Homo sapiens: one gene and its partners. The protein of the gene in region 1 purifies or fractionates together with the protein of each later gene. This does not show direct contact. Each region holds a gene or a part of one and is shown on either strand. Other genes may lie near its edges. The genes, in order: UBE4B, PDS5B, HDLBP, USP34, FAM114A2, VPS4B and ZRANB2.

Evidence for each region.
Region 2: the proteins of UBE4B (region 1) and PDS5B fractionate together in Homo sapiens (co-fractionation; one large-scale study listed by BioGRID). This does not show direct contact.
Region 3: the proteins of UBE4B (region 1) and HDLBP fractionate together in Homo sapiens (co-fractionation; one large-scale study listed by BioGRID). This does not show direct contact.
Region 4: the proteins of UBE4B (region 1) and USP34 fractionate together in Homo sapiens (co-fractionation; one large-scale study listed by BioGRID). This does not show direct contact.
Region 5: the proteins of UBE4B (region 1) and FAM114A2 fractionate together in Homo sapiens (co-fractionation; one large-scale study listed by BioGRID). This does not show direct contact.
Region 6: the proteins of UBE4B (region 1) and VPS4B fractionate together in Homo sapiens (co-fractionation; one large-scale study listed by BioGRID). This does not show direct contact.
Region 7: the proteins of UBE4B (region 1) and ZRANB2 fractionate together in Homo sapiens (co-fractionation; one large-scale study listed by BioGRID). This does not show direct contact.

The regions. Positions count from the first base shown.
Region 1 is NC_000001.11:10,130,458-10,133,957, reverse strand, and holds part of UBE4B (ubiquitin conjugation factor E4 B), read right to left. Parts: intron 3,459-3,500; coding exon 3,342-3,458; intron 3,244-3,341; coding exon 3,145-3,243; intron 1,590-3,144; coding exon 1,476-1,589; intron 1-1,475. UniProt on the Homo sapiens protein: Ubiquitin-protein ligase that probably functions as an E3 ligase in conjunction with specific E1 and E2 ligases. May also function as an E4 ligase mediating the assembly of polyubiquitin chains on substrates ubiquitinated by another E3 ubiquitin ligase.
Region 2 is NC_000013.11:32,757,452-32,760,951, forward strand, and holds part of PDS5B (sister chromatid cohesion protein PDS5 homolog B), read left to right. Parts: intron 1-635; coding exon 636-768; intron 769-1,082; coding exon 1,083-1,202; intron 1,203-2,176; coding exon 2,177-2,239; intron 2,240-3,123; coding exon 3,124-3,269; intron 3,270-3,500. UniProt on the Homo sapiens protein: Regulator of sister chromatid cohesion in mitosis which may stabilize cohesin complex association with chromatin. May couple sister chromatid cohesion during mitosis to DNA replication.
Region 3 is NC_000002.12:241,239,173-241,242,672, forward strand, and holds part of HDLBP (vigilin), read right to left. Parts: coding exon 3,288-3,500; intron 1,137-3,287; exon of another isoform or gene 951-1,136; coding exon 729-950; exon of another isoform or gene 649-728; coding exon 430-648; exon of another isoform or gene 330-429; coding exon of another isoform or gene 219-329; intron 1-218. UniProt on the Homo sapiens protein: Appears to play a role in cell sterol metabolism. It may function to protect cells from over-accumulation of cholesterol.
Region 4 is NC_000002.12:61,345,588-61,349,087, reverse strand, and holds part of USP34 (ubiquitin carboxyl-terminal hydrolase 34), read left to right. Parts: intron 1-201; coding exon 202-332; intron 333-607; coding exon 608-1,218; intron 1,219-3,500. UniProt on the Homo sapiens protein: Ubiquitin hydrolase that can remove conjugated ubiquitin from AXIN1 and AXIN2, thereby acting as a regulator of Wnt signaling pathway.
Region 5 is NC_000005.10:154,000,911-154,004,410, forward strand, and holds part of FAM114A2 (protein FAM114A2), read right to left. Parts: intron 2,060-3,500; coding exon 1,937-2,059; intron 1,481-1,936; coding exon 1,341-1,480; intron 1-1,340.
Region 6 is NC_000018.10:63,394,977-63,398,476, forward strand, and holds part of VPS4B (vacuolar protein sorting-associated protein 4B), read right to left. Parts: intron 2,278-3,500; coding exon 2,058-2,277; intron 1-2,057.
Region 7 is NC_000001.11:71,074,536-71,078,035, forward strand, and holds part of ZRANB2 (zinc finger Ran-binding domain-containing protein 2), read right to left. Parts: intron 2,343-3,500; coding exon 2,260-2,342; intron 1-2,259. UniProt on the Homo sapiens protein: Splice factor required for alternative splicing of TRA2B/SFRS10 transcripts. Binds to ssRNA containing the consensus sequence 5'-AGGUAA-3'. May interfere with constitutive 5'-splice site selection.

The DNA of each region.
Region 1 (3,500 bases):
CCACTTCAGCCTCCTGAATAACTGGGTCTACAGGTCTATGCCACTATACTGGCTAATTTTTTATTTTTTTTGTAGAGACAGGGTCTCCCTATGTTGCCCAGGCTGGTCTCGACCTCCCTGGCTCAAGTGATCCTCTTGCCTCAGCCTCCCAAGTAGCTGAAACTATAGGCATGCACCAGCCACCATGCCCAGATGACTTTTGTATATTTTGTAGAGATGGGGTCTCATTATGTCGCCAGGGCTGGTCTCAAATGCCTGGGCTCAAGTGATCCTCCCACCTCGGCCTCCCAAAGTGCTGAGATTACAGGCGTGAGCCACCATGCCCGGCCTCTTTCTCCTCTTTATTTCCCTCAAGAGCATCAAAACAAGTTGCTCCACTTCTTATCATGTGACATTGTTTCTCTAGGTGACAGCATCAGCATGCTCCTGCATTAGCAATATAACAATGTAACTTGATTACCTCTGTTAAGAAAAAAATAATAATACAACAATGATAAGAATGATAGTTAATATTGGTTGAGTGATCACTGTGTACCAGGCACCACTCTAACAGCTTTATATATAATAAACCCAGTACCAGTAGTACCGCAGCTTAGCAGATGAGGAAATGGAGGCACAGAGGAGTCACTGTCTAAGGTCCCGCAGTTAGTAAACGGTGGAACCACGATCAGAAATCACAAGATCTGTGCTCTTCTCTCTACATGATTTTTGCTTCTGAGTATACACATCACATCATTCATTCATTATTTATTACTAGTCAAGGAAGGATGCCCTTTTCTCCTCTGGCAAAGCAGCTGCAGCCACTGGCCTGTCTCACCCGGACCGAAGCACTCACGCCCTTGCAGCTGCCTTCTTGGGTCTGTTCCTGGCTGCCCCCTTGGGTCTGTTCCTGGCTGCCCCCTTCTGTTTTGGTCCGTCTACATAGCAGCTTTTGTGGTTTCCCTGCTGAAAACCCTCCCATGACAGTTCTGATCACGTAAACCTAACCCGATGGCGCCCTGCCTATCCACTAACTCCAGGACCCGACATTCCCTCCTGTTCACTCTTCTCCAGCCACAAAAGCCTGCGTGCTGGGCTTGTACCAAAGCTGCTTCGTTTCCACATTGGATAGCTCTTTTCTCAGCCACTACAATGGCTGGCTCCTTCCTATGAAACAAATGTCACCTCCTCAGGGAGGCCTTTCCTGCCACCCAATCAAAAATCACCTTCAGATCTTCCTTCTGGTACCTACAGTTCTTCTCATGTCATTTACTTTGCTCTATTTTCTTCACTGATTATACAACTGTCTAAAATCATGTATTTATATGTCTACTTGTTTATTCTGTGGAACATGGGCTCCACAAAAGCAGGAAGCTCGTCTACCTTGTTCAATACTGTACCCCCACTCCTAGAACAGTGCCTGGTAGGTGCTGACTAAATCTGGGTCAGATGAATGAATTTGACAAACAGCGAAAAGCAGTCTGTAGGAATCCTACCTGCATCTGTGCTTTCTTCATATTGGCATTGACGACAGCCGCCATGTAACTGAGAGCAGCCTCACGGGTTTCGCCATTTAACAAAATACTATGCAGAATCTTAAAAAGCTCTTGCTGAAATTTATTTTTAAAAAGAAGAAACAAATTAAAACTATTTTGCACATGATTCCTTTTTGACTTCACGAACAGCTAGCCTACTTCCCACGTTCTCTCCTCTCCCACTTCTACTCATTTTAGAAGAGCCTGAGTGAAAGAATATAAGAAATATCCACATCCAACTATGTCAAAGTAATGAGCATGAAAGCAGAATATGGAGTGGGGGAGGTAGGCAGTTACAGTTTTTTGTTTTTTTTTGAGACAGAGTCTAGCTCTGTTGCCAGGCTGGAGTGCAGTGGTGCAATCTCAGCTCACTGCAACCTGCGCCTCCCAGGTTCAAGCCATTCTCCTGCCTCAGCCTCCCGAGTAGTTGGGATTACAGGCACACGCCGCCACACCCAGCTAGTTTTTGCATTTTTGTTGTTTTTTTTTTTGAGACGGAGTTTTGCTCTTATTGCCCAGGCTAAAGTGCAGTGGCACATCTCGGCTCAGTGCAACCTCCGCCTCCCGGTTTCAAGCGATTCTCCTGCCTCAGCCTCCCAAGTCGCTGGGATTACAGGCACCCGCCACCATGCCCAGCTAATTTTTTTTGTATTTTAGTAGAGATGGGGTTTCACCATGTTGGTCAGGCTGGTCTCAAACTGCTGACCTCGTGATCCACCTGCCTTGGCCAATTTTTGTATTTTTAGCAGTGACGAGGTTTCACCATGTTGGCCAGGATGACTTCCTGACCTCGTGATCAGCCCATCTCAGCCTCCCAAAGTGTTGGGATTACAGGCATTAGCCAACACGCCCAGCCGGCAGTTACAGTTTTAATAAAATAGGCTTTGTTACTTCTTTCCCATGATCAAAATTACCTTAGTTACCCAAGCCTGTAACTTCTTTGCCTGTTTCTTTTTTTTGAGATGGAGTCTTGCTCTGTCGCCCAGGCTGATGTGCAGTGGCGTGATCTTGGCTCACTGCAACCTCCACCTCCTGGGTTCAAGTGATCCTTGTGCCTCAGCCTCCCGAGTAGCTAGGTAGCTGGGATTACAGGCACGCGCTGCCATGCCTGGCTAATTTTTGTATTTTTAGTAGAGACGGGGTTTCGTCATGTTGGCCAGGCTGTTCTCAAACTCCTGACCTCAGGTGATCCACCCCACTCGGCCTCCCAAAGTGTTGGGATTACAGGCATGAGCCATCACACCCGGCCCTTCTCTGCCTTTAAGTTTGAGAATTGAAGACATATTAATCTGCATTTGGGATAAGCAAGTCAGTGAGGGTGTGTGCAAACTAACAATCCTTGCTCACCCTCACAGTGTAAATGCCTAAGGGCCAGCTGGAGGAGGAGCCGGGCCACTAAGCTTAGGACCAGTTCCCAGTGATGCTACATACAAAGGCAGCATACTGCTGTTGTTACAACCTGTTATTCAAGACACAGGCTACTTACTTATAGTTTATCTTTTTTATGTAAGATCGAATTGGCTTTTGTTAGCCGTTTGTCTACTGGGCATAGTCCAGTCTACAAAATAAAAGCTCTGTATCTGGAGCTCATCTTTGATACTTCCTCTGGATTTGTTTTCTGAACACTTACCCTTCCGAGCTCTAAGTAATGCTGCAATGATTGGCTAACCACACGAGTGTTTTCCAGGGTAATGGCAGGCCCTGAGAAGTATTTTTCAACCACTTTAACCTGGAAAGAGAAGGAAAAAATGCAGTCAACATATAATGCACATTTGGGAAAGAATCTGAATAAAAGGGCAGCAAAGTACAAGTAGCCACTATACTTACATCATCTTCTGCAAAGACTGAGAAGCTAAAGAAAGCCCCTAAGTAAGAGAGTCTCTGCAGCTCCCGCCCACAGCCAGGACTTAAGGATTTCGGCAACCACAACCGCAAAGAAGCAACCTAGGCAGAAGATGGAAGAGCCAGTCAAGCCGCTGAACAGGC
Region 2 (3,500 bases), on another chromosome or scaffold:
ATCAACTATAACTTTGTTCCTTTCTGTCTCTATAATACATAGGCAAAACACTTTCATTTTGTATTGAATAGAGTTTTACGTAATTAAGTTTAAAACTGAGCTACTGAAGCTTTCTTTTAATTTTTCCCTTTTTAAGCAAAGACAATGCTTATAATTGTCAATCTTGACTTTTTCTCTCTATTATTGAATATTCTTAACTGTTCATATTTAATAAGGCAGTTATATTCTCTTGAAGAGTTCCCATCAGGACTGTAGTCAGTCTTGAGTATCTGAGGCCTCACTTGATCCGTGGCCCCACTATTCCTTTGACAGTCTTTAACTCCCTGTCATAGCTGAGGGTTAAGATAACTTCATCCTTTCTACCATTTATGTTTCCCCTTTAACCCGCCTCCTTGGAAATCTGGTGAGATTTTAAGAAGGGATCTTATAAGCTCATATCTGCATTGTTGACCTGTTTTTATATGTTTGTATGACATATTCTTTTTCCCTGCTGGTTTGTAACTGTTTCTTTTTTTTTTTTCTTCCTGGAGTTATATTATCTAGGTTTGTTATATTTATATTTAGAATTATTGTATCTATATTTAACAAAGGATGATTTTCTTCTATATTTCTTTTTTCCTTTTTTTTTTTTTTAGATGTCTTTGGTTTGTTCTGGAAATATTAATGGCTAAAAATGAAAATAACAGTCACGCTTTTATCAGAAAGATGGTAGAAAATATTAAACAAACAAAAGATGCCCAAGGACCAGATGATGCAAAAATGAATGAAGTATGTAATTCTTTGTAAATAATTATGGTTCCATATTGATTTAAAAATTTAGGTGTAAAGTATGAAACTTCTGTAGTATTTATAGATAGCATCAAATAATTTTTTCTATTAGTAATTAGAATTACGTAGAATTAGCAGTAATTTTATTACAAGTAAATGAGCAAAACCAGTAGTGTAAGCTAAGATGCTTACACAGACTGTTGCTTTCATTAGTTTGCTATTCAGACTGGATTCATGTTCTGAAATTATTCCTAGTTTACAGAGTCTAGATTGCCAGCTTAAGTATCTGTGTTTTTAAAAATATACTATTGCAGAAACTGTACACTGTGTGTGATGTTGCCATGAATATCATCATGTCAAAGAGTACTACATACAGTTTGGAATCTCCTAAAGACCCGGTACTACCAGCTCGTTTCTTCACTCAACCTGACAAGGTAGTTACTTTACAATTTGTTTGTGTAAGTTGAAATAAAATGTATTCTCAGCACTGGATTGTAGGAAGATCAGGAAGGATCATGGAAAAATTGCTGTGAGTCTTAAGAATGTGATTTAAGATCAGAACCAGAATATGAGTCAAACTGGAGGACACACATAAGGTTCAGATATTAGGATGATCTGGTGTTTATGTTCAGTTTTAAGACAGTCTTAGAGCGCAGGTAGAAATGTGATCAAAGCATGTGAATCTGTGAATTAATGGCCATTGTTCAAAATGGGAAGGAGAGTGCTGATAGAGATACAGTCTGAAGTTAAAAGCCCTTTATTGGGATTTATAATTGGTATGAGGAAACAAGCAGAGAACAGACACTAGAACATGCCTAAGACCCTGGGAATACTACAAGAGTGTTACCAAACCATGCTCCAAAAACTCGAGTGTGATATAAGATGTAAAAAGTGTTTCCCACAGTCCCTCTTACTCCTTTATAATTTATTTATTTAATTCCTCGTAATTTAGCTGAACATATTGAGTAACAGAGTCTGGAAATAACCACTATCCTCTTTTTGCTTTTAAAGCAAAATGCCAGTTAAGACCTTACCAGTGTATAGAGATTTGGAACAGGCCTGTAGGATTGCTCAGTAGCTAAAAGGGCTGTCACGTTGGTGTGAGCAGAGTAATAGGAATATGTACATGTGGTCTTTCCCCTGAAGGGTGTTATTAAAGAAGCATGTGTTTTCTGATGCACTCTTAGAGCTCTAACATGTTAGAGCTCAAATATGTTTTGTTAATATTAGAGTTGGCATGAGGTTGGTTTAACCTTATTACAGTAGTTAAAATCAGTGACTGAAATTTTGTGTTTCATATGATAATTTAGTTTAAATAAAAAAACTGCTGTTTGCTTTGTTGGCTTTTGAACCACCTGTAGATAGTGTTTTAATATTCACTGACTACTTCTTTTTCTCTTGGTTGTAGAATTTCAGTAACACCAAAAATTATCTGCCTCCTGAAATGAAATCATTTTTCACTCCTGGAAAAGTATGTTTTGAGAATCATTTTAATTTTTATGTGGTAGCTTATTTTAGAGTGATTATTGGCAAAATTGTGTTATTTTGTATTTCTTCAAAAATTTATATTTTCAAGCTGGAAAATATAAGAATTAACGATCTTACATTTACTAGTAAGAAATAATTATATTTACTAGATATACACAAGCTGAAATACACAAATTACTTTTTAGCTTGTAATAAAGTCCTAGGAGACCTGATTCTTAGACTTCTTAGGTTAATATCAAGATAAAAAAAATCTTAAAAGGCTTTTTTTTTTGAGACGGAGTCTCTGTTGCCCAGGCTGGAGTGCAGTGGCGCATCTCGGCTCACTGCAAGCTCCGCCTCCTGGGTTCAAGTCATTCTCCTGCCTCAGCCTCCTGAGTAGCTGGGACTACAGGTGCCTGCCACCACGCCTGGCTAATTTTTTGTATTTTTAGTAGAGACGGGGTTTCACTGTGTTAGCCAGGATGGTCTCGATCTCCTGACCTCGTGATACACCCGCCTTGGCCTCCCAAAGTGCTGGGATTACAGGCGTGAGCCACTGCACCCGGCCAAAAAAGCATATTCTTATGTCTTTCCATGGCAAGAGTCTAATTATCTATTTTCATTGTTGATTATTCATTTCATTTGTTCTCACTTTTTATGTAAGCCGTTTTCTCCAGATAACTAAGAAATTCAACTGTTATGCTGTCTGTATAGTTTTTAATTTGTTCAAGTGATATTTAGTTTATACTTATTACTTTGCTTAAGGATAGACACATTTTTCATGATTTGTAAGTAAATACTTTGAGAGAGATGTTATTTATGGTTCTTTACACGTAACTTTCTTTTGGCTTTAACCAAATAAAAAGAGATGTGCATTTCTCATTTCAGCCTAAAACAACCAATGTTCTAGGAGCTGTTAACAAGCCACTTTCATCAGCAGGCAAGCAATCTCAGACCAAATCATCACGAATGGAAACTGTAAGCAATGCAAGCAGCAGCTCAAATCCAAGCTCTCCTGGAAGAATAAAGGGGAGGTAAGTGCAAAAGAAATGCCACAATTTACATTTAAGGATTCCAGCAAGGCTATGAGATCTGAAATAATATAATCCAAAATGTTTCATGTCAGTAAATGGAAAGTAATGTATTACTTAATTTTTCCATTTAACATTGGTAGTCACAAGTTCATACTTATTTGCTTGCTCATTTTGGATGGGTGCTCTGTCTTAGTCTTTCATTCTTTAGCTTGTTGGGGGTAATCTGTGTTA
Region 3 (3,500 bases), on another chromosome or scaffold:
AGACCACGTCTTCTCATGACTTCCCATGGATTCACGTGGATGCCCTCAAATCGATTTTCTTTCCTTCACAGAGGGGAGAAGAGAGCTGACCCCTTAGACTGCATTTTCATTTTTCCTGATCCCTTATACAGAATGCATTTTCTTTCTTTCTCTTGCTTTCTTTCCTCTCTCTCTCTCCCCTCTCCTCTTCTCCTTCTCTCTCTCTTTTTTTTTTTAAGTGCTTCTCGCAGGCAGAATTCTCACCAACTATCAGGAAGGAGGCCAGACAGGCTGAGGAAAGAAGAGCGAGCACCAGAAAGCCCCTTCTGAAGCCTTCCAGGGCTGTATGAGGGAGTCACCTCCCTACAGGGTGGAGCGAACACTCATACACGGCTTCGGTGAGTGGCCACTGGGGGGTGAGAACCCCTCCCCGAGCACCCAAGTGCCTACCAGGTCCTCAATGATCTCCTGAATGCGTTTCTTGGCTGCCTCCACACAGTCCTTGGCGCCCTTGAGGGTGACTTTGTCGCTCTGTGTGCCAGAGCGTGGGAAGCTGACCATCACCCCGCCATACTCTTCAGCAATCTCCCGCAAGACCTGGCCTCTGCGGATGACGAAGTGGCGGTGGTGCTTGGGGTCCACCAGCATGGAGTCTTCCACCACATTATCCTGCAGTGTTAAGAAGAGATGGAAGATAAGCCACCCCATCACGGCCCCAGCAGAGTCGGCCGCCGAGGCCCGCTCCCTACCAGGTTTTGGATCAAGGCCTCCAGCTCCTTCTGTGCCTCTCGGACGGCGTCCTCCTTTCCAATGATGGTGATCAGGTCCTGGTCCTTGTCCTCAGCCGCAGGGAAGATGACACGTGCTCCAGTGCTGTCGCGCACCTTGCGAATTTTGCCGCCCCCCTTGCCGATGAGGAATTTGTGGTATTCTGGCTTGGCGCGGATGTCAACAGTGAAACTCTTGGTTTGCTGCAGAAACCAATCCCACTGTGTTAGCCTGACACCACGTGCCTGGACCACAGTGAGGAAGACAAGAGGGTCTGTAGGACAGCAAGCTCGGGCTCCCCTTACATTGTCACCAGTGTCCTGATGTTGCACCAATACCCCCAAAATGGGGCTAGCACACCTCACTGAATAAACAGATGAATACCCAGACTGCACACCTACTTCTCTTCCACAACAACCAGATGCTGGTGGGATGAACACACAGGCTTAGAACCCTGGTCCTGCCACTTACAAGCACTGACCAAACTTCTCCAAGCCATTTTTGATCTGCACAGGGGGAGGTGGGAGCAACGCGCCGGACGATATGTTGGCGGAGTGCACGTCCTGGGGAGCGTGGGGTGTGCCCAGCAGAGCAGGAAGCAAGCTGCCCAAGAGGTGTGCACCATGCTCCCACTCTTCTACCTGCTTCCAGACCAAGCACACACAAATCTGGGCCAGGCTCCCTTTCTTCCCACGAGTGCTACAGATCAGCCTCCACAAAACCAGCCACTCCCCAGGCTCAAGCTCAAGCTCAGAGGGACACAAGCCAACCAAGGCTACAGTTAGAGACCGGTCCTCAGAGGCCTCGTGTAGTGCGACGCCCTTGTGTGGCAGTAAGAAAACGAGGGTCCTGGAAAGGCCCCGGACACTGCTTGTGGACACCAGTGCTTCTGGCAGACCCACGCAGGGGCCCCGAGAAGGGCGCTGCTCCACGGGACTCAGGTCCACACGGGGAGCTCTTGCCTTTCTCCGGACCCAAGATCTGGCCCGCAAGCAAAAATACCAAAGAAAAACATGCTAGCACAAAAATATTAAATAACAACTTTGCTACCTTTTAAGTGCAGGTTTCACCAAATACCACCTAGAGACTCTGCTACTTTTCAAAGACATCCACAAATAGCAGCATTAGTCAAACATTAGGCAATCAATTAGGCAAATGCAATCTAGCAATATGGCCAAAGACAACCTACCAAACCAAGCAGGGATTACCCCAGAAACGCAAGGCTGGTTAAACACAAAGACAAAAACATCAATCTAATAACAACAACAAAAAAGACAAGAAATACAAGGCTCCAGATTAGAGAGAAATGTAACTGTCCACAGACCACGTGATTGTGACATATAAAATAAGGATCCACAAAACAGTGGGCCGGGCGCAGTGGCTCACGCCTGTAATCCCAGCACTTTGGGAGGCCGAGGCGGGCGGATCACGAGGTCAGGAGATCGAGACCATCCTAGCTAACACTGTGAAACCCCATCTCTACTAAAAATACAAAAAATTAGCTGGGTGAGGTGTCGGGCGCCTGTGGTCCCAGCTACTCGGGAGGCTGAGGCAGGAGAATGGCGTGAACCCAGGAGGCGGAGCTTGCAGTGAGGCGAGATTGCGCCACTACACTCCAGCCTGGGCGACAGAGCAAGACTCCGTCTCAAAAAAAAAAAAAAAAAAAAAAAAAAAAAAAAAAAAATCCACAAAACAGTGACTGGCGCTAATATACATGAGCTTTATTTAGCAGCCTCGTGAAGGTCAACATACAAAAACCACAGGCACTTCCATGTGCTAACAACTGGAAATGGAAAAAAAGTGCCATTTACAATAGCACTAAAAGAGTAACAGTAGTTAGATCTGTTAAGTCGAACATAAAAATGTGCTAAAAATTATAAAACACCAATAAAGAATCACAGACCTAAAAAAAATGGAGAAATGCCTGCAAAAGTCAAAACTGCTGAGCTGTCAATCCTCGCCAGTCTCATCTTCAAATTTCACACAATCCCAATCAAAACGTGAAAGTGCTTTTTTCCTACAAATTGACAGGCTGATCAGCAAGGGGTGTAGAACAGCCAAAGTTAAGAGGGCTCACACTACTGATTTCCAGACTTCCCATAAACCTGGTGTCACCAGAAGAGCCCGGAAACATACCCACAGATGGGTTTTGACACAAGGACAACAGCAATTCCATGGGCAATCTTTAGGGGTGATGGAAAATGAATTTTGATGATTGTGGTCACATGACTGCATGTTACTTAAAACTCAACTATACCTGAAGAATGGCCAATTTTACTGTAAATCATATTTAAAAAACAAAAGCACCCCAAAACTAATAAGCCAAAGACCAACTTTTATATATTGCATATGTGAGCGTTTGGACCTGGAAAGGCCCTCCAGTAACAGCAAAAACAAAGACGCATAAACAGTACATTATAGAGCTGTTTTCTGACCCGCCACAAAGGAAGGGCATTCAGGGGTTTCCACAGTGAGAAGCGAGAACACTGTACTGAGGACCAGGCTTCCTGCCAAGAGTCACGCTCCCTCCCCATGCTCACCTTCTCCTCCGCCAGATGCAGGAGCTGCTTCTTGGCCTTCTCCACATCCGAGGAAGGGCCCCTGATAACAACGGTGTCGCTTCCTGAACCTTCCACGGGAAAGTGAATGTGGACCCCGCCGCACTCCTCCATGATGGAGCGGATCAGACGGCCCTTGGTGCCAATGAGGGAGTTGTGCAGCTTGGCAGGGATGGAGACCTCTACCTCGGCTAT
Region 4 (3,500 bases), on another chromosome or scaffold:
TCTTAAACATCTTGACTTTTAATTGAATCTTACATCTTCTTTAGAAATCATGAGCAAATGTTAACATATTTAGAGATTTTATTTTTGGCTACTTAGCATAAAGCTTTGGTAACTAGGTCAAGGAATCAAATGATAATGTCATTCTGTTAAGTCAATGTTAATATAAATTAGAAGTAAAAACAAAAAATGTATTTTATATAGGGTCACCTGCAGCTAGTCCTCAAAGCAGTGATAATAGCGATACACATCAAAGTGGAGGTAGTGACATTGAAATGGATGAGCAACTTATTAATAGAACCAAACATGTGCAACAACGACTTTCAGACACAGAGGTATGAAAATAGGTTTTTCTTCTTTTATAGGCATTTTTGGCTTTCTGGCGTGTTTATCATTTGAATTGGGTATATATACATAATTCATGTTTGGGCTTGTCCTCTCCTTTACGTAATATTTTTGACATCCTTTGAGTTTTTAATTCCATTTTGTATTGTTCAAAGGAGTATAACAAGACTGGCAGCCTTTTTAAAAAGTACAGTTTATTAATGTTGGTTACCTTTTTTCTTACTGGTTTAAATATTTATTTAAATCTATTTGTTTCAAAATACAGGAATCCATGCAGGGAAGTTCTGACGAAACTGCCAACAGTGGTGAAGATGGAAGCAGTGGTCCTGGTAGCAGTAGTGGGCATAGTGATGGATCTAGCAATGAGGTTAATTCTAGCCACGCAAGCCAGTCAGCTGGGAGCCCTGGCAGTGAGGTACAGTCAGAAGACATTGCAGATATTGAAGCCCTCAAAGAGGAAGATGAAGACGATGATCATGGTCATAATCCTCCCAAAAGCAGTTGTGGTACAGATCTTCGGAATAGAAAGTTAGAGAGTCAAGCAGGCATTTGCCTGGGGGACTCCCAAGGCATGTCAGAAAGAAATGGGACAAGCAGCGGAACAGGAAAGGACCTGGTTTTTAACACTGAATCATTGCCATCAGTAGATAATCGAATGCGAATGCTGGATGCTTGTTCACACTCTGAAGACCCAGAACATGATATTTCAGGGGAAATGAATGCTACTCATATAGCACAAGGGTCTCAGGAGTCTTGTATCACACGAACTGGGGACTTCCTTGGGGAGACTATTGGGAATGAATTATTTAATTGTCGACAATTTATTGGTCCACAGCATCACCACCACCACCACCACCATCACCACCACCACGATGGGTAAGCCTACTTCAAAATAAATATTCAGTTCATATTTCCTTTAGGGAAGTATTATATCCTATATTCAATTTGCAATTTATTCTGTATTAGTGCTATTCATTAGTAGTATAGTGCAAACTATAAATGTAAGCTACAAATAGATAATTTCAAGTTTTCTATTGGGCACATTTAAAAACACAAAATGAAGCAGGTTGTTGGCCATGCACAGTGGCTCACACCTATAATCCCAGCACTTTGGGAGGCCGAGGCAGGTGGATCACTTGAGGTCAGGAGTTTGAGACCAGCCTGAACAACATGGTGAAACCCCATCTCTACTAAAAATAGAAAAATTAGCCGGGCATGGTGGTGCACGCCTGTAATCCCAGCTACTTGGGAGGCTGAGGCAGGAGAATCACTTGAACCTGGGAGGTGGAGGTTGCAGTGAGCTGAGATCACACCACTGCACTCCATCCTGGGCAACAGAGTGAGACTCAAAAGCAAAACGTTGAACAACAACAATAAAAAACCAGGTTGTTAATTTTAATCATGTTAAACCAATAATATCCACAATGCCATTTACACATGTAATAAGTATAAAAATTACTAAGGTATTTCCTTCCTTTTTTTCTTACCAAGTCTTCAATATTTAGTGCATATTTTATACTTATAGCACTTTTCAATTTAGACCAGCCACCCTTTAATTCTTTAAAATATTTATTGATTTATTTGTTTTCTTCTTCTTTTTTTCTTTGAGACAGGGTCTCGCTCTGTTGCCCAGGCCGGAGTGCAGTGGCACGATCTAGGCTCACTGCAACCTCCACTTCCCAGGCTCAAACAATTCTTGTGCCTCAGCCTCCTGAGTAGCTGGAATTACAAGCACCCACCACCATGCCTGGCTACTTTTTTAGTATTTTTAGTAGAGATGGGGTTTCACCGTGTTGACCAGGCTGATCTTGAACTCCTGACCTCAGATGATCTGCCCGCCTCGGCCTCCCAAAGTGCTGGGATCACAGGTGTGAGCCACCAGGCCCGGCCTTTTTTTTTTTTTTTTTTTTTTTTGAGTTGGAATCTCACTCTGTCACCCAGGCTGGAGTGCAGTGGCACAATCTTGGCTCACTGCAACCTCCGTCTCCCAGGTTCAAGCGATTCTTCTGCTTCAGCCTACTGAGCAGCTGGGACTACAGGTGCCCCCCACCCCCCACCCATGCCTGGCTAATTTTTGTATTTTTAGTAGGATGGGGTTTCACCATATTGGCCAGGCTGGTCTTGAACTCCTGACCTTATGATTCGGCCTGCCAAAGTGCTAGGATTGCAGGCGTGAGCCACTGCACCTGGCCTTTTTTTTTTTTTTTTTTTTTTTTTTAAGAGATAGGGTCTCACTTTGTCACCTAGGCTGTAGTGCAGTGATGTGATCATAGCTCACCGTAGTCTCAAACTCTTGGGCTCAAGCAATCCTCCTGCCTCAGCTTTCTGAGCACTTGAGACTTAAGGTGTGTGTTGCCACTCCTAGCTAATTCTTAATTTTTTTTTTTTTTTTTTATAGAGACAGAGTATTGCTATGTTGCCCAGGCTGGTCTTGAACCCCAGACCTCAGTGCTTTTGCCGCAGCCTCCCAAAGCTCTGGGATTACAGGCGTAAGCTACTTATACCCAGCCTAGACCTACCATGTTTTATGTGTGTAATGGTCACATATGGCTAGTTGGTATTATATTGGATAACACAGGATTAGATTTTCAACATCTTGTAATAAATGCCTAAAAAAGATATGAGTGCTTATGGAAACTTTCCTAAATTGTGATTAAGAAAGGGAAATTTTACACATCTAATTTTAGGGTATTTAAAAGGGTAAGCTCCAGCATAAAACTTTTTGGTTATCTGTGAAATATACCAAATAATGTGATTCTGTCACTTAGTGGTGGTATTATGATGGGCAAAATAATTAATTTTTCTTCATTTTTTCAATCTATAAAATGGGAACAATAATCCTAGTGCTTTGGAGGCTAAGGCAGGAGGATCGTTTGAGGCCAGGAGCTTGAGATCAGCCTGAGCAACTTAGTGGGGCCCTGTCTCTACAAAAATATTAAAAACACTAGCCAGGCATGGTATCACACACCTGTAGTTCTAGATAATTGGGAGGCTGAGGTGGAAGGATCGCTTGAGTCCAGGAGATCAAGACTGCAGTGAGTGGTGATTGCACCACTACACTTCAGCCTGGGCAATAGAATGAGACTCTGTCTCTAAAAATAAAATGGGCACAATAGTATCTATCTCATGGTTTTATTGTGAGGATTTCCTGGGCTAAC
Region 5 (3,500 bases), on another chromosome or scaffold:
TTAGTTATTAGTTACTGGGTGCTAATTTTATGCCAGGCACCATGCTAAGGGATTTACATGTATCATTTCTAATTTTTACAACAACTCCAAAAGTAAGTGATTAGTCCATCTTTAATAATAGTTACCTAAAGTCTTGTGTGTGCCAGATTTTATTTAAAGTCTTTCAAGCAATGGGAACATATCAGTGAACAAGAAAAGTCCCAGTTTTCATGGATTTCAACTTACTTGCTAAATTAAGGGGGAGACTATATACATATACATATATACACATACACACATATGTATACATATACACACATATATATTCATATACATGTAAGTCCTACTTGGTGATATAAGCTAAGACAATAAAGCAGAGTAAAAGGACAGAGAATGGTGGAAGTTGCTATTTTAGACTTTGTGGTGAAGGAAGGCTTTTCTAAAAAGGTGGCATTTGAGTAGACTTGAATTCAGAGAGGGAGTGAACCCCATTTCAAAGAACATTCCAAGTAGCAGAAATAGCCTCTTTTCCGCAGAACAGGCTCCTTTTAGGGTTGTGAGTCTCTCATCCTTAAGGAAGTTCAAGAAGACAAATTAGCCCCCTATTATGGGGTGCTGTAGTGGGATGGTGATGGTGCAAGTAAAGAGGAAGTCTGCAGAAGACTGACAGCCCCTCCCAGTTCTAATAATGGGCACTCTTATACATTTGTTTCCAATGAAAATTCTCATTATTTTAATCAGGACATTTGCTTAGAAACTACTGGGCTTTTTCTTCCCTACCTATGATTATCTATACTATTTTTGAAAAATTTTTGTACAAATCAGCAATAAAATGAGAAAAAAAGAATGGGTTCAGGACACTCAGTCAGACCTGGGGCTAAATCCCAGGCCATACAGCACAGACAGATTACTTAACTCCTCCAGTTTGCATTTCCTCATGATTAAAACTGGACTAATTACTTACTTTTGGAGGTATAAAAATTAGAAATTATACATGCAAATCCCTTAGCATGGCACTTGGAATGGTATAAAATTAGCACTCAATAATAACTATTATTAAGAACTGAGGTTCTTAGAACTCTTCTCTGTTTTCACTTATACCAAATTCCATTCCTATTAAAACTTATCTGTAAAGAAATAGTCTTCAGAGCATGAGTTGGTTAATAAAAAGGGCATATTTATAATATTGATTTATCATGGTTCAATGAAAAGAAAAAAACAACCAAAATGAACAAACCATCTAATATGTGGATGGGTGTGACGTGAATGGTTTCTTGAGAGAGACGTTTATAAAACTTTGGAAACAGGCCAAGAAAACTCCTGCAATTTGCATCATTTAGAGGAATTCTCATTACACTTACTGGGAAAGAGTTTGGCTCCTTTCTATGGCTGTCACTTCCTGCTTCCTGCCATGCAGAACCAATGCAGCTGTTTTGTGGAATAGTTCAATTGAGCAGGCAGTCAGTTCAGCCAGGCTCCGGATTGCAAACGCATGGATATCCTGGATGGAAAAACAAAACAAAGCATAGCAAAACAAAACATTTGGTGGAAAGATACCACCTTACTTCTCTCATACTACAGGATTTGTAGCAGAGACTAATAGTTGCCTTCCAATAAAGAGTGTCTTCTTCTTCCACAGTAGTGATATAATTTTACAGCTGGGCTCCCCTGAAGTCAGGTGTGACGAAGTAACTAAGTTTTGGCCAAATGATTTAGATAACAAGTGTCAGGCAGCAGTTTCTGGGAACCTTCCTCATGACAAAACACACGCGCATCCTTTCTCTCTTTTTTTCTTCACTCCTCCTTTAATCTTATAGTCTGGATCTAAGATGCTACAATCCTAGATCACAAGGTTGAAATTACGGACAGCAGTGTAAAAATAGGAGCCTGGGTCCCTGATTGTGACACATTTCAAATCTACTAAAACAAACAAAAAAGGCTTAGTTGCTTTGGCTACCTCTATTGAATTTTTGTTGACTTGCTCAGTATTTTCTGCTTCCGACTGTTTTTCTCCTTCTTCATTCTCTGCTAATGGCTTGGTCAGAGACTTCCTGATCCATTCGTGGGCGGTATTTCTTGCCTAAATAAGAAAAATATTGGCCATCAACAATTCAATTCAGTTTACCAAAATTACTGTGCACCTACCAGGAACACAATAGCATCCTAGAAGTAAGGGCTCCTGTTCTTACCTGAACGTACCATCTAGCTTTTCAGTCCTTATCCTACTAGTCTCAGCAATACTTATCACTGTGGTCCATCATTCCTTTTCAAAATTCTCTAATTGGTAGTATTTTTTTTTTTTTTTTGAGATGGAATTTCGCTCTTGTTGCCCAGGCTGGAGTGCAATGGCACAATCTTGGCTCACTGCAACCTCTGCCTCCTGGGTCCAAGCGATTCTCCTGCCTTAGCCTCCCGAGTAGCTGGGATTACAGGCGCCCACCACCACGCCCAGCTAATTTTTGTATTTTTAGTAGAGACGGGGTTTCGCCAGGTTGACCAAGCTGGTCTCGAACTCCTGACCTCAGGTGATCCCCCTGCCTCAGCCTCCCAAAGTGCTGGGATTACAGGCATGAGCCACTGCGCCCGGCCTCTAATCAGCTTTTTAAAAAACCAAGGTATAATTTACATAAAGTGCACAAATCTTCAGAGTATGGCTTAAGAAATGTTTTTATGTGTATATGCCTACGAAACCGTGATCAAGATATAGAATATTTCCTCATCCCTAGAAGGTCCCTTCATGTCCCTTCCTAGCCAATACTATTCAAACCATGTCCCCCTCCTCCTGCCCAAAGACAAACCCTCTTCTGCTCACTATAAATAATTTTTCCTAATCTTAAAATGCATAAAAATAGAAATATAAGTTCATTCTAATTTGTGTCTGGCTTAAGCACAACATAATGTCTGTTAGATTTATCCATGTTGCTGCATGTATTAGTTCATTCATATTAACTGCTGTGTAGTATTTCATTTTATATACAGTCATGCACCACATAATGATGTTTGGGTCAACAGCAGACCACATATATAATGGTGGTCCTGTAAGACTGTAATACCATATTTTTACTGTACCTTTTCTATACCATTGTGTTGCAACTGCCTACAGTATTCAGTACTGTAACATGCTGTACAGTTTTGTACAGGAGCAATAGGTTAAACGATATAGCCTAGGTGTGTAACAGGCTACATCAGCTAGGTTTGTGTAAGTACACTCTCTGATATTCGCCCAATGACAAAACTGCCTAATGATGCAGTTCTCATAACATATCCTCATCATTAAGCAATGCATGATTGTATATATCACAATTTATCCATTCTCCTGATAATGAATCTAGTTTTCTTTGGTTTTTGTAACCCCAACTTTCTTCTGTTCTCCTCTGACCTTTATGACCATTTCTCCTCAGTATCTTTTATATATTGATCCTAACTGGCCAGTCTCTTAAACGCCAATATTATTTGGAGGTCTAGCCTTCACTCTTTACTCGTCTCATCCTATTCCCTCTCCATCCATCCTATGCCAGTGG
Region 6 (3,500 bases), on another chromosome or scaffold:
AGAAATAAAATACTAGTAAATGCAAAAAATAAACAGGGAATCTTCTTCTTGTTAACTGAAATAATCAGCTTTAAAAGAAGTAAAGGATGGAGCCGCTGAGAGGTCTGCTGCAGCTGGTGATCCCCAGCTGCAGAGATAAAACTCATCTGGCTGTGTCACCTTCATCCCACTAACAAGGACCTGGCTTCAGCGTCATGTGAGCTCACCCTGGCAGTAATATGCAGAATTGAGTGACAAACTCTCAGTAGGAAAGGACTGAGTTCCTATGCATTTATAGTTTCTAAATGGCAAAGAGAATTTAAGAAAAAACATAATGGCTGTGGCATAAACTTAACAGTACTTCAGTAATGAAATGGCTGAAGAAGGGTGGATGAGTAACATTCCCTACGCATCTGAAGTACCACGACTGGTGTTTTATGAGTATTATATCACTTCATTATTGGAAAGGACTTCAAAATAGCATTATCACATCCCCATTTTAGAAATGATAAAAATGAGCTTTAAAGAAGTAATAGAATTTGCTCAAAAAGGTATAACAAGTAAATGGTGCCAGGCTTCAAATTCAGATTTTAATTCAAGCTTGTTAACTTAAAAAAATCTTATTATGGTACATGATAAATATACGTATGTGACTTAGTCATATTAGTCTTGACATACATTATGAGATTAGGTTTGCTAATAGTTTTTCACATGTATGTTCATGAGTAATACTGGATACTGTTGTTCACAGCAAAAGGGTTGGTCCAGATTACCTAGTTCATTGTTACTCAAACTGGGTATCTCAAGACCACAGCCTTCTTATAAAACTTTATCTCAGCCACAGATGCTTAACTTGTTCTTGCAGACAAAACAGAACACAGGAGGGGCAGGATAGCAGAATGGCTGAGATTTCAGATTTGGAAACACACCTCACCTCCAGGCAAATCACATGTCTGTCCCACTCTAGCTACTGTGTTAGCACCTACGTCCAAGACTAACCACCATTAGGTGGCTGGCTACATGTACCTCTCTTGCTGATTTTTGTGAAGACCAAATGAAATAGTAAGATAAAAGACAGAACACAGTGCCAGGCATGTGAATATTTAAAAGATATTAGCTATTATTATTTTTACTTTATGAGGTATAAATGCACCAGATTCTACTCAAAAATATTCTAGATGTGTCAGAAGCAGCCTTACATCTGTACATTTAAGTTTCTATACTTATATCAAAATAATACACAAATACTTCAAAAATCATTTCATAGGAAAATTTAAAACACATTAGGATGATTAATAAGGCCTTTTCTTTTTTTAAGACAGGGTCTCACTGTGTCACCCAGGCTGGAGTACACTGGTGCAATCTCGGCTCACTGCAACCTCCACCTCCTGGGCTCAAGAGATTCTCCCACTTCAGCCTCCCAAGTAGCTGGGACTACAGGAGTGTGCCACCACATCCAGCTAATTTTTGTATTTTTTACAGAGATGGGGTTTTGCCATGTTGCCTGAGGCTGGTCTCTCCTGAGCTCAAGAGATCTGCCCACCTCGGCCTCCTAAAGTGCTGGGATTACAGGTATGGGGCACTGCACCCAGCCAAAAATGGCCAATAAATAAACTTTATTAAAGAACTTGTTTCAGTGACACAGAAATATGTCTATTATGTAAACCCACTTATGGTATTATTATACAACACTGAAATCCTCCCAAATTCTTTGAAGACAAACCAATGACGGTCTTGAAACTTGATTTTAAAAATACAGGAAAAGGGCCAGGCGCAGTGGCTCACGCCTTTGGGAGGCCGAGGTGGGTGGATCACCTGGAGTCAGGAGTTCGAGACCAGCCTGGCCAACATGGTGAAATCCTGTCTCTACTAAAAATACAAAAAATTAGCCAGGCGTGGTGGCACACGCCTGTAATTCCAGCTACTCAGGAGGCTAAGGCATGAGAATTGCTTGAACCCGGGAGGCGGAGGTTGCAGCAAGCCCAGATAGTGCCACTGCACTCCAGCCTGGGCAACAGAGTGAGACTGTCTCAAAAAAAAAAAAAAAAGATAGGAAAGGATAGATAAAAATGACTTACCTTTTTAAAATGAGTAGCTGACTGTACTTTCCTAACAGGCTGCATAAGGGCATCACGTACAATGATACTTATATCTGCCCCTGAATAACCATCTGTTTTCCTCCCAAGTTCCCGAAAGTCTGCTTCCGTGAGACTGTTCTGAGTGGTCCCTAGGTGCAGTTTAAACATTGCTGCTCGGGCATGGGGTTCCGGCAAGGGAATATAAATTCGTTTCTCAAATCTTAAAAGAGAAATTACATCAAGAATATATTTAATTGAAAATTAGGATATTTCCAAGAAGAAACAGATACTAAGTTAAGTGGGCCTGTATGTGCCAAGGTTAAACATATATATTTAGGTTAAAGGGATAATATCCAGAACACATTAAAAACAAACAAATAAAATCAAAATAGCCTGGGAGCCAGTTTGAAGTGGCTGAATCTTTCGTGCATTTTTGGGTTATTTTGGCCACAGTGTTCCTATGTCTGGAATTCATGAAATAAAAAGAGGTCCTACAGGGTTACAGTTTCCCACAAAATTGTACTCTGAACTCTTGATCAAGGGACTAATGATTAACAATATAAAACAGGAGTAGAGATGACACAGTAATTCTCTACATTCAAAACAGAATTACCTCACAATCTTATAGGATATATATTACACAAAATGTCCACTTTAATGAATACATCCAGAACAATCCTATATTATAAAGAATAAACACTATGTTTCATTAACAATAATTTTGCTTGCTTTCTTAGAATTTCGGTATTTGGAGACAGAGAAGCAACGATGAGGGATAATTTAAGTGGTCTGAGCAGACTGTTTTTTCTCCAGGTAACTCTCTGTGACAATGAAAAGAATTTAAAGTTTCCGTTGCCTCTAGAGATGGGTGCAGAATAAGGCAATTTTTCAAAAATACCCTGCACATTTCCTTTCTTGGTACTGGATGGTAAGCTAGAATGCTGGCGCAAATCATCAAGTGAATGGGATAAAAGTGGCAAAAACTGAAGTGCTAATTTTTACCATACAAAATAAATGAATGTAATACAGAACTGTGAAGAGTGAAAAGTGAAGAGTCCGTATACCTTTCCTAGAACTGAAGTTTCATTTTCAACTTAAAAATTAGATAGATAGATGTGTGTGTGTATACATATATACATATACACATATACATATATACACACACACACACATATATATATATATATATATTTTTTTTTGAGATGGAGTCTCACTCTGTTGCCCAAGCTGGAGTGCAGTGGCACAATCTTGGCTCACTGCAACCTCCGCCTCCTGGGCTCAAGCGATTCTCCCACCTCAGCTTCCCGAGTAGCTGGGACTACAGACAGGTGTGCGCCACCATGGCCAGGTAATTTTTTTGGATTTTAGTAGAGACAGGGTTTCACCACGTTGCCCAGGGTGGTTTTGAACTCCTGAGCTCAGGCAATCTGCCTACCTTGGTTT
Region 7 (3,500 bases), about 61 Mb from region 1:
TCTGTGATTCTACACCCTGAACAATTAATTCAACTCCTGAGAACATATTCTAAGGAAAGAATCCAAAAGAATAAAAATCACAATGTACTAAGTTTGTTTTTATGCCATTATCTTTAATGGTTTTTTTTTTAAAAAAAAGCTGACAAAAACAAAAATAATCCTAAATCCTGAAACAGAGAAGTAAATTACTGAACAATTTGATGGAATTATGCAGGATAAGCCAGCAGCAATCTTTCAGAGGTAGTGAATCACATTCTCTTTTATTCATATCCTGTCTCATGCTTAGGAAATGCTCCCCAAACCCTGCACTGCTTTATTACAAATAGCCAAAAGAAAGCGGAAAGCAACAGAGTAAGTTATTTCACACCTTCAACTGTTACCAGCAAAGACAAATACTTGTAGCAAGGGAAGTGAGAAAGGTTCAAGACACCAGAATGACTGAAAAATGACAATAAGAAAAGTGAGAAGTTATCAAATAAAATTTGCTTACTTCTCTGTTAAACTATAGTTCTTGTGATAATGAAACTATAAAGGAGTCAGGAAATAGGTCAAAGTTTTTTTAAGTTTTGAAACTGTTAAAAAGATTTTAGACTTTATCCTAAAAGCAATCAAAATGGGTTTTTTAAAAAAGGATTTTAAATTTGGAAATAAAAACATGTAGAAACCAGCTAGGTGGCTATTTTTCCACAAAACATAGTAATTCTTTGCCTAGGGTGGTAATGGAAAAGAATTTTTGGGGTATGGGAGATATCAAGAAAGGGCTATTTAGGCTAAGAAGGACATCTAGATTTCCAGCTTATGTAATAAATGTATGGTGAGTGGTACTAATCATGAGAAAGAGATCATTGGAAGAGGGTCAGGTCCCAGGGGTAAAATCACAAATTCAGTTTGAATATAATGAGTTTGACATTTGCATGGCAATGTTGAATAGGCAGCTGGATATATGGGTCAAAGAAGTCTGAGCTGGAGACATAAACTTGGGTTATCATGGCAAAGTTACTTAAACTTTGGGCTTAGAAGAAAACACCATGAAAATAGAGGAAAGAAAGAGGGCCAGGGATGGCTGCGAAGAATCCCAACATCAGTGGCCAAAAGAAGAGAAACCTGCAAAGGAGACAGAATAAACAATCAATCAAACGGGGGTTGGTGGGGGCGGTGAAGGAGGTACGGTGCATACCTTAGGTGAGGGAAGAAAAAAACGAGATCCTTGTCAGAAGGCCTTAACTTACCCAATCGGTGGAAAGGCAAAATCACTTCCTAAGAATAAGGCAGGATTTGAGGGTTGAAAGTGGCGGTTGGGCTGGGGAAGGGGGGATCAAGGACATTATGTTATAATGTTCTCACATATGAGAATGTAAGTTTTAAAAAAGGGGTGGGGGGGGATAAAAGTAGAATTTCTGTTGAAGTCTGGAAGAGCTAGGTCGAAAAGATTGAACAGTGGCCCTCTGATCCCTAGAAACTAAACAGACAATGAAAACGGCCTAAAGTTAGAGAGGCAAAGAAAACAGGGAAGCAGTTCACCAAGCCTAAGTCTGACAGGGTGACTAGATATAGAAGGAATCCTTTGATCATGTGACATATAAGCAGTTGAAAGACAAAATCAGATTTTAAGTAAACAGATAATGTGGTTGGGCTAATTGGTGATAATGGAAAAACTATATGCTATTAGGTAAACATTTTCATTTCACCAGTAACATACAAAGCCAATGATCAACTATTATTTAGGCCAATGATTATCAAACACCATCCAAAAAACCTGCAGATGTTGGAAACCCACCGCCAAATAACTTTAACAGTTCTGCATTTTGCAATCGATATTTGAAAAAGTTTTTCAGATAATCTAGCACATAGCTTAAGTTTCAGAATTACTGCCAAAGCTTTAGAAGAACACTTTAAATGGTGTGGCTTTGCCCTTTAAGTCACAGCAGGCTATCAAAAGAATTTAAAAATGGTATCATTATATCATTACTAATAACAAACATGCAAACCAGTGAAAGGGAGAGGAGGAGAATATTTCTGAAAGTATTCTTATGTCCCTCCTTGTTAGGATAAAGGTCCCTAACACTGTTATTTTATAAATTGTGAAACAAAAGATTTGTATGTGTGTATGGGGGGAAAAAAATCCCAGTAACAAACATTCAGGGCAGAATAAACAGAATCCTCACTTACTGTGGCTCTTACTCGAAGGTGATACAATTATCGTTTCAATATTTAGTGCTTTAAAAAAAATCATTTAGTTACAATGTGGTTTTATCATACCTGTTCTTTCTTCTAATTTAGCATACTTTGGAGTATTACACATATTACACTCTGATCTTCTGGCCCAATTCACATTGCTGCAACTTTAGAAGTGAAAAATACTAAATTAGTAGGCTATAATATAGATGAATATCAAATTTTTAGATATTTTACAATTTTAAAATAAAAACTAGGATGAAACCACTGTCAAAGAAATGTTTATTAAGTGGTAATGTAAACAAAGAAAATGTACAGTGGCCTGAAGAGTAAATGTGGGTTCCAACAACGGACTGAACCATTTAAGCAGAGAAGCAAAATTTATATAGTATGAAAAGTGCCTCTGTCATTTTGAGAAGTAAATGACAAATTATAACCACAGGTCGAGTATCACTAATCCACAAATCCAAAATCCAAAAACGTTCCAAAATCTAAAACTTTTTGAGAGAGGACATGACACTCAACAGAAACGCTCACAGGAGCATTTCAGATTTTCAGATTAGGGATGCTGAACCCACAAACATTTCAGGTAAGTGATACTGAACCTGTATAGAAATTCTGATGTCTTATGAAAAAATATAACTTTAAATTAACAGCTCCACTAATTTCTCAGTCTCTGAATATACCTTAAAGAGTATGGTTATACCCTATAAATAATATTAATTTATTTTTTTGAGGTCTCAGTTCAAGCACTGAATTCCAAAGCATACCAAATCCAGTGACCAAATCTGTAGCTGGAAACTTTTCCAATACAAATTTATAATCCTGAGGATCAGAAATTTATTTAAGACTCTAGGGTCAGGAATAGTGGCCCATGCCTCGCCTGTAATCCCAGCACTTTGGGAGGCCAAGGCAGGCAGAATGCTTGAGCTCAGGTGTTCGAGGCCATCCTGGGCAACATGGTAAAACCCTGTCTCTACCAAAAATATAAAAAAATGAGCCAGGCATGGTGGCATGGGCCTGTGGTCCCAGTTACTAAGGAGGCTGAAGTGAGAGGATTGCTTGAGCCTGGGAGGTAGAGGTTACAGTGAACTGAGATCGCCCCACTGCACTCCAGCCTGGGTGACTGAGTGGGACCTCATCTCAAAAACAAAAAATACAAACAAACAAAAAGAGAAATTTATTTAATACTTTTTTGATTTAGACCTCTTTCATACACATAGGATTCATCTGCATAGAGAAAAGATGGAAGTTGGAAAAATCAATGAAGAATTAAATCTAAGCCTGAAAATAAAAATCATTAAGAAACCTACCTATAATTAGAC